Linked DNA regions of Homo sapiens. The protein of the gene in region 2 purifies or fractionates together with the protein of the main gene of each other region. This does not show direct contact. Each region holds a gene or a part of one and is shown on either strand. Other genes may lie near its edges.

What was found. The genes of interacting proteins can lie anywhere in the genome.
Region 1: the proteins of KRT78 (region 2) and QSER1 purify together in Homo sapiens (affinity purification with mass spectrometry; one large-scale study listed by BioGRID and IntAct). This does not show direct contact.

The regions. Positions count from the first base shown.
Region 1 is NC_000011.10:32,955,311-32,958,810, reverse strand, and holds part of QSER1 (glutamine and serine-rich protein 1), read right to left. Parts: coding exon 3,399-3,500; intron 2,824-3,398; coding exon 2,690-2,823; intron 2,474-2,689; exon of another isoform or gene 2,357-2,473; intron 2,087-2,356; exon of another isoform or gene 2,045-2,086; intron 943-2,044; coding exon 725-942; intron 1-724. UniProt on the Homo sapiens protein: Plays an essential role in the protection and maintenance of transcriptional and developmental programs.
Region 2 is NC_000012.12:52,846,195-52,850,482, forward strand, and holds the start of KRT78 (keratin, type II cytoskeletal 78), read right to left. Parts: upstream 2,801-4,288; 5' UTR 2,737-2,800; coding exon 2,353-2,736; intron 2,090-2,352; exon of another isoform or gene 2,078-2,089; coding exon of another isoform or gene 2,024-2,077; intron 1,928-2,023; coding exon 1,713-1,927; intron 631-1,712; coding exon 570-630; intron 99-569; coding exon 3-98; intron 1-2.

The DNA of each region.
Region 1 (3,500 bases), on a different chromosome or scaffold from region 2:
AAGCATTTATTAAATAATGTAGTGGCATACGTTATTAAATATATTACTATATTATAATTTGAGTGCCCCTTTCCTAGGCTTAGTTATTCTTTTCTTCTAGCATAAACTTAGACTCAAATGTTTATGCTAGGTGGGGCGCAGTGGCTCATGCCCGTAATCCCAGCACTTTGGGAGGCTAAGGCAGGAGGACTGCTTAAGCCCAGGAGTTTGAGACCATCCTGGGTGACAAAGCAAGAGCCCATATCTTAAAAAGAAACATTAGCTGGGCATGGTGGTGCACACCTATAGTCCCAGCTACTTTGGAGGCTGAGGTAGGAGAGTTACGAGCCCAGGTGTTCGAGGCTGCAGTGAGCTAGGATCATGCCATTGCACTTCAGCCTGGGCGACAGAATGAAACCTTGTCTCAAAAAAAAAAAAAGTTTAGAACTAGATGATTCTTAGTAATCATCTGATCTAACCTCCATCTTATCCAGAGTTGAGATAACTGGCATTACTAAGGTAAGTTCTGCCTTTTCTATTTACAAGGCTGCATGTGTGGGCCAACTGTGCTTCAGTTGGTATGTTCAGGGAATGTGAACTTACTTTCATAAAAACCTAAACAGAATTTATTAGGTAGATAAATTCCCTGAAAAGTAAATACATTTTGAATTGTCAGCATCCTGCTCCTCACCACTCATGTAGATAATCTAAAGTTATCAGGGTAGCCATTTCACGGAAAACTCACCCTCATCGTCACTACTACTAGTATGGATCTCAGGAGATGAGTCAGATTGGGATGATGAAAATTCTTCTTTCCATTTTTTCCGTTTCTTTGGTGGTGGCTCAGCCTTTACTTTTGGCTGTTTAACTTTGGGTTTCACGGAAGGGGCTTTTGTAGTTGTAGTTTTTGATGCTAGAGGATCAGAAGTTTTACTGCTACTACTTGGCTTAGCTTGAACAGTTCTGCAATGTTATAAACAAACTTCATTAACACACTGAAATCTTGTTAAACTAAAATAAAATAGAAAAATAAAAGAGAATCACAGGAGAAGATTATCTAATTACTCTCACCAATACCTTCAAAATATACAGTCCAAGTCCTATATACATCTCAATGGTGATTCCCATAAAATTTTCTTAAAATACATTCTTTTCACCAGAAGCATTCAATATTCAGTTATTAAGGGACTTTTAGTTCAGTCCTTATTTCTACTTCTTCATTGCCCTCCTTGATTTATGGACTTATTTCCCAGAGACTATGAGGCTGTACAACAGATGATCAGTGGGCTTAGGAAGGTAATGAATGTTATAACCGTAATTGCCATATCTAGCTCTGACCCTAAGAAACTCTCACAGGCTCTGGTGGTGTCAGGTTTTGATGTAGAAACCCAAATGCGGCGCGGTGGCTCATGCCTGTAATCCTAGCACTTTGGGAGGCTGAGGTGGGTGGATCACTTGAGGTCAGGAGTTCAAGACCAGCCTGGCCAACATAGTGAAACCCCATCTCTACTAAAAATACAAAACCAGCTGGGAGTGGTGGCGGGCGCCTGTAGTCCCAGCTACTCGGGAGGCTGAGGCAGGAGAATCGCTTGAACCCGGGAGGTGGAGGTTGCAGTGAGCCAAGATCACGCCGCTGCACTCCAGCCTGGGCGACAGAGCAAGACTCTATCTCAAAAAAAAGAAAAAAAAAAAAAAAAGAAAAAAAAAGAAAAAAAAGAAAAACCCAAATGCATCTGTCCTAGAGTCCCTCGAGATTTGCTGTATGCCAGCTGGGTATGGTGGCTCATGCCTGTAATCCCAGCATTTTGGGAGGCTGAGGCAGGCAAATTGCTTGAGCCCAAGAGTTCAAGACCAGCCTGAGCAACATGGTAAAATCCCATCCCTATAAAAATTAGCTGGGCACAGTGGTGCACACCTGTAGTCCCAGCTACTTGGGAAGTTGAGGCAGGAGGATCACCTGAGCCTGGGAGGTCGAGGCTGCAGTGCCGTGATCATGCCACTACACTGCAGCCTTAGTGACAGGGTGAGACCCTGTCTCAAATAAAAAAGATTTGCTCTCTTCCAGGTCTGAAGATTTGAGTGGATAAAATTCCATCATAAAAATAAGGTAAGCTGCTTCCAGTAGGTGGGAATGTTAATGAAACTGGACCTACTTGGCACTGGAGTAAGAACATCTACGGTCATACCTGCTTCTCATGCAGACCACAGGGTCAAGTCAGTTATCTTCCAGATTCATGCTCCAGACAACCCAGAGTCACATTAATACACAATAATAATTCTACTGTGTACACTTGTACAGTAATGTAGTTCTTATAGTTTTTTTATCAATAATTATTTTAAATTTAATTTACTTCATTATATTATTTACATTTTATAGATGAAAAAGGGAGCTTCAGGAAAGCTGTCTTCTCTAAGTCACATAAAGCTGGACTCAAACTTTTTGCCTCTACAATTTTTTTTCACAATACTGGGATGACACCAAAAGGACTTAGGGAAAAGAAAAGGGCACCCACCCACCACAGATAGCCATGAGCTTTACAGTGCCCATCTCATGCCTTCAAAAGAATCACTTATTTCATCAGGCACTGAAATTTTTTGACTTGTGTATAATAAAAAAAATCTATTTAATTGATATGCTCCTTTGTACATTGGTATCATCAATAATACACCTATATATATGCACAAATATATCACCTAAGAAAACAAATACCTGATAGTTTGTGAAGGTTTATTTCTTGGCTTTTTAGAACACACTCTGACATATTCCTTCTTGTTTGCATTTTCAATGAACTTCACATATATTCTTTTGTATTTACTCTTTGCATCTCCAAAATATCCAAGATACTGAGGAAGGAAACACTTTGAGTTACATAATTGAACAATCTAGATACAAATGCTACTTTGTTTGTTCAATTGACTATCCCATAGCCAACCTTCAAGTTTTCTAAAATGCAGCTCTGGCCAGGCTAATTTTACCCTCAAAAACTGATCCCAGGCTCATTATTGATTTCATATGTACAAGCAATCTCATTTGGCATATTCTTACTTCCAGCTACATTAAGTATGACAGAATAACTTCCATCAGTCTTCTGGTAAATCAGGATATTTGACTAGTAGAATAATCAATATAAAGGAGCCTCTGAGTCAATCTGAACTCTTCATAGGCTAACATTAATCCCTTTCCTTTATTAAAAAAAAAAGTTAAACAATAGTACAAGGTCATTTAATTTTAAATAGCTGATATTTAACAAATGACTTTATTTTTATATTAGACTATCAAAGAGCATCAATATTCTAGTTCAAATTATATGCTACTTTATATCAAAAATATTCAATATAAAATACTTCTATATTTAAATCATTGTTTTTCTCAGGACCACTGTCAAAATAAGGCTAATGTAAACATGCATTTTACTTACACTATTTGTAGCAGCAAATTCTCTTTGACCATCTCGAATTTCAGGAACAAATTTCTGTAATAAAGCTTTTTGTACTTTCCAAATAGCTGGAGGTTCTTTTCC
Region 2 (4,288 bases):
ACTTCTTCATTCAGATGCTTCAAGAAGTAGAGGTACTCTCTCAGAGCCTCCAGCTTGCCCTCCAACTCCATCTTGCTCAGGAAAACCCCATCCACATCCTGGAGACAAGGGGAGAGAGAACACGTAACCCCCTCTTCCTCTTTGGGGTCCCTACTCTGGCTCAGGAATTCTGTTCATGCACTGCTCAACACCCATCCACCATGCCTCCCAAGACCCCCTCCTTCCTCCTCCAGCCCCACTCTGTCCTGCTCTCTCCTTTGCCCAACATTGACCCAACATCACCTTCAGGAAGTCTTCCCTGATTAATCACAACCAGTTCTGCTTCTTCCTCTCCCTCCCCGCCCTCTCCTGCAGTGACATCAAGAGCTCGTCAAGCAGTCCTTTAGTCAGATCTTGCCTTGGGGCCCCTGTGTCTAGGCAGATGTCCCATTTTCCCAGGGGACCCCTGCAGGTAGAGTGATAGCCTGTCCTAAATCAGGACCTCCCACCTTTTCCCTCCCAGCCTAGGACTAGGCTCCGTGCACAGTGGATGCTCAGAACGTAAGTGGAGCACTGGCCCCCACCCTCACCTTCTTGAGGACCACAAAGTCGTTCTCAAGTGTGGCACGCCTGTGGGCCTCCTCCTCATACCTGCCAAATAAGTAGAGAAGGATGCAGTTTGAGGCTCCACGGTCAGAGCTCATGCCCCCATGTCCGAGCATGACCTCCCTGAAAAGGACTCCTTGCCTTAGAATGCCCCCAAACAAGACAATAACCAGCCCTTCTCTCCTTTCCTGCCACGTCCTAGCTATGTACCTGTGCCACCCTTTCAGCCCATGTCCTTTTGATGACGACAGCCACATTGTTTCAGTTTATAAGGCACATTCGAATACCTTTTCCCACTTGCTACTCACACCCATCACTTGAGGTAGGCAGTTTGGGTTTTATCAGAGAGATTAGATGATTTGACCAAGACCCCACAGATGACTAGGTAGACAAAGCAGAGCCAGCCCAGGTCTTCTGACCCCAATCCAGGGCTCCTTCCAGAACCTTCCTTCCTCCACCTCACATCCCATTATCCCAATAGCCCTGGGAGGCCAGAAGGGCAGGTGACATTTCCCAAGTTTACAGAAGGGAAACCAAGTCCGGGAGAGATGAGATGCCTTGCCCAGGATGCACAGCTACCCCTCACTCACAGTTGCCCCAACCCAAGCCCCCTATTAGTCCAGGGCTCTCTCCACTCCACCAGGTGACCTAGGCGTGGAGCCCAGAACCACAGCCCATCTGTGAATTGTGTCACAGGCCTGGGGACAGCCCCACTAAATTGATTCCCTTCCCTCTTTGGAACCAGAGAACATCTGAATCACTTTAGCCCACAGCCCGCTGAACAGGAATTTCTCAAGAATAAAAAAAGCCACTGGGGCATTGTTTAAATAAGCCCTTCCCAGCCTTGACCGGAAACATGGGCCCTTGTAGCTGGGGCATGTAGGACACCGGTCTCCCTGCCTTTCCTCCAAGGTTCTCCAGATCTGCTTGGGGACTGCGGGACACCTCGTTTACCTGTAGCAGGTGGGCACCTGAGAGCCTGGGGAATGGGGACGCGGAGGGGTAGAGGGGAGGCCAGTCATGTGCCTCTGGGTGCTCAGTATGTGGGACACCTCCTGGCTGACAGACCCAAACTGAGTCATCCCAGACCCCGCCCACATGGCATGGGGAAATTTCAGTGTGCCTACTTGGACTTATACTCCTCCTCCTGGTCCCGGCAGGCCTTCAACTCAGCATCCAGAGCCCCTCGTTCTCCCTGGAGCTGCTCCAGCTGCTTCCTGAGCTGATCCAGGCAGGCCTCAAAGACAGGCTCCAGGCCCTGCTGGCTGCCACTCAACCCCTGTTGCTGCAGCAGATGCCACTTCGTCTCCAGGACCTTGTTCTGCTGCTCCAGGAACCGCACCTGCAGCAAAAGCAGAGGATCCCTGAGGCTCCTGTGGGACTCCCTGTGCACAGCCTCTGGAAAGTAAAGCCTGAGGGACCCTCCCATCAGCCTCACCTTTCCCCTGTCCCCCTGCCCAACCTGGGCAGGGGAAGCCTCATGACCTTCCATGACACTCTGAACACAACAAAATGACTGGACTGACTAATGGGGCAGGGCCTTCCCCCCGCTGGCTGGCAGTTCTCTGTCCCTGAGCCCCAATCATGGAACAACAGGGCCTCAGCATAGCCAGAGAGAGTCCAGTTAGTCCACAGGAGGGACTTCTTTGCTGCAGAAGTTATTAGAAAAGTGGTAGAAGGAGGCCAAACTTCCCATTTCCAAGTCCATCAAGAGCAGCTCCTCCAAGGGAGGCACAGAGACAGGGGCTTGGCTGAGTTGACCCTCACCTTGTCAATGAAGGAAGCAAACTGGTTGTTGAGGGTTCTGATCTCCTGGGTCTCCTGCGTCCGCACCACCTGGAACTGGGGATCGATCTCAATCTTCAGTGGGGTCAGCAGATTCTGGTTGATGGTCACTTCTTGGATGCCCCCCGGAGGGCACAGGGAGAGCCCAGGCCCACCACTCCACTCCCCAAACCGCACCCCCAGCCTACCCCCTGACCCCCAGGTACTCCCACGAGAGCCTTCCAGGCACCCCCCAAAGGAATTAAGGCTCCTGCTGCTGAAGCCGCCCCTGCTGCTGAAGCCTCCCCTGCTGCGGCCCCTTGAGCGAGCAGAACAGGCTGAGCGAGCGCTGAAGCCCCTCTGGGCCCGGCATGGGGAGAGAGACATGGCAGAGACAGACAGTCACGCAGCTGCAGACGGACAGACAGATTGTCAAGGTGTGTGAGTTTCTGCCCTGGGGCCCCAGCACGAGACTTTTATCCACTCCCGTACCTGGGCTGGGCCTTGGAGAGCAAGATACTCTTGACCTGACTGTGTCTGTCACTTGGCTCCAGCTGACTTACTCTGACGTGCCTGGAGAATAAGTGTCCGGCACGTGCAGAGCCAAGGGAGAAGGAAACCCAGACCCTGCCCTCAGAGCTCCCAGGCTGTTGGAGAAATAGGCATGCCCAAAGACAAGGAAGCAGGCAGGAGACTGGGATGTCAGTGCTGAGGGACAGGGAGGGATGGCCGGAGCAAAGTCACTGAGGCCCTCAGGGAAGGCTTCCTGAAGGAGACAGGGAAGCGAGAGGAGGTTGAAGAGGAAAGAACGCTAGAAGGGGTTCAGAGGAAGCATCAGAGTGCCCTGGATTCTCAAGGGAGAATCTGCCTCAAGGAGTTGGAGAAGGAAGGCACTTGCAGCGCCACAAAGAGAGGAGGTTAGTGGAGGTGTTATTGCCATAGTTGGCTAAAAGACACTCCAGGATTTGGAAATGAAACAGAAAAACAGGGTTTCCAAGTCCTTCCTCTTGCCCAACCCAGCAATCATCCATGAGGCACCACCCACTGAAATCAGGCATCTCCATCCAGGATCGCATGGGACAGCACGTTTCTGACCCAGCCTGTGGCTCTGCTCCTTCCACAAGCACTTGGGGCCAGGCCCATCCACCTGCCATCAGGCTCCGCTTCCTGAGGTTACAAATCAGAGCCACCCAGGCTCTGAAATGAAATGTGCATTTAGGGCCGGGCACAGTGGCTCACGCCTGTAATCCCAGCACTTTGGAAGACCGAGGTGGGTGGGTCACTGGAGGTCAGGAGTTTGAGACCAGCCTGACCAACATGGTGAAACCCCATCTCTACTAAAAATACAAAAATTGGCCAGGTGTGATGGTGCACACCTGTAATCCCAGCTACATATGAGGCTGAGGCAGGAGAATTGCTTGAACCCAGGAGGCAGAGGTTGAGCAGTGAGCCAAGATCGTACCACTGCACTCCAGCCTGGGCAACAGAGTGAGACTCCATCTCAAAAAAAAAAGCAAGGTGCATTTAGAAAATACTCCTAAGCTGGGAACGGTGGCTCACGCTTGTAATCCCAGCACTTTGGGAGGCCTAGGCGGGTGGATCACGAAGTCAGGAGATCGAGACCATCCTGGCTAACACGGTAAAACCCCGTCTCTTAAAAATACAAAAAATTAGCCAGGCGTGGTGGCAGGCACCTGTAATCCCAGCTAATCGGGAGGATGAGGCAGGAAAATCGCTTGATCCCAGAAGGTGGAGGCTGCAGTGAGCTGAGATCATGCCACTGCACTCCAGCCTGGGTGATAGAGCGAGACTCTGTCTCAAAAAAAAAAAGAAAAGAAAAGAAAAATACTCCTGATGGACTGGGAGCAGAAACAGGACATTTGGGGTTCCCCACAGGACAGCCTCTGCCTCTGGCCTGAAAGTCTGGTGGGTGAAGGAG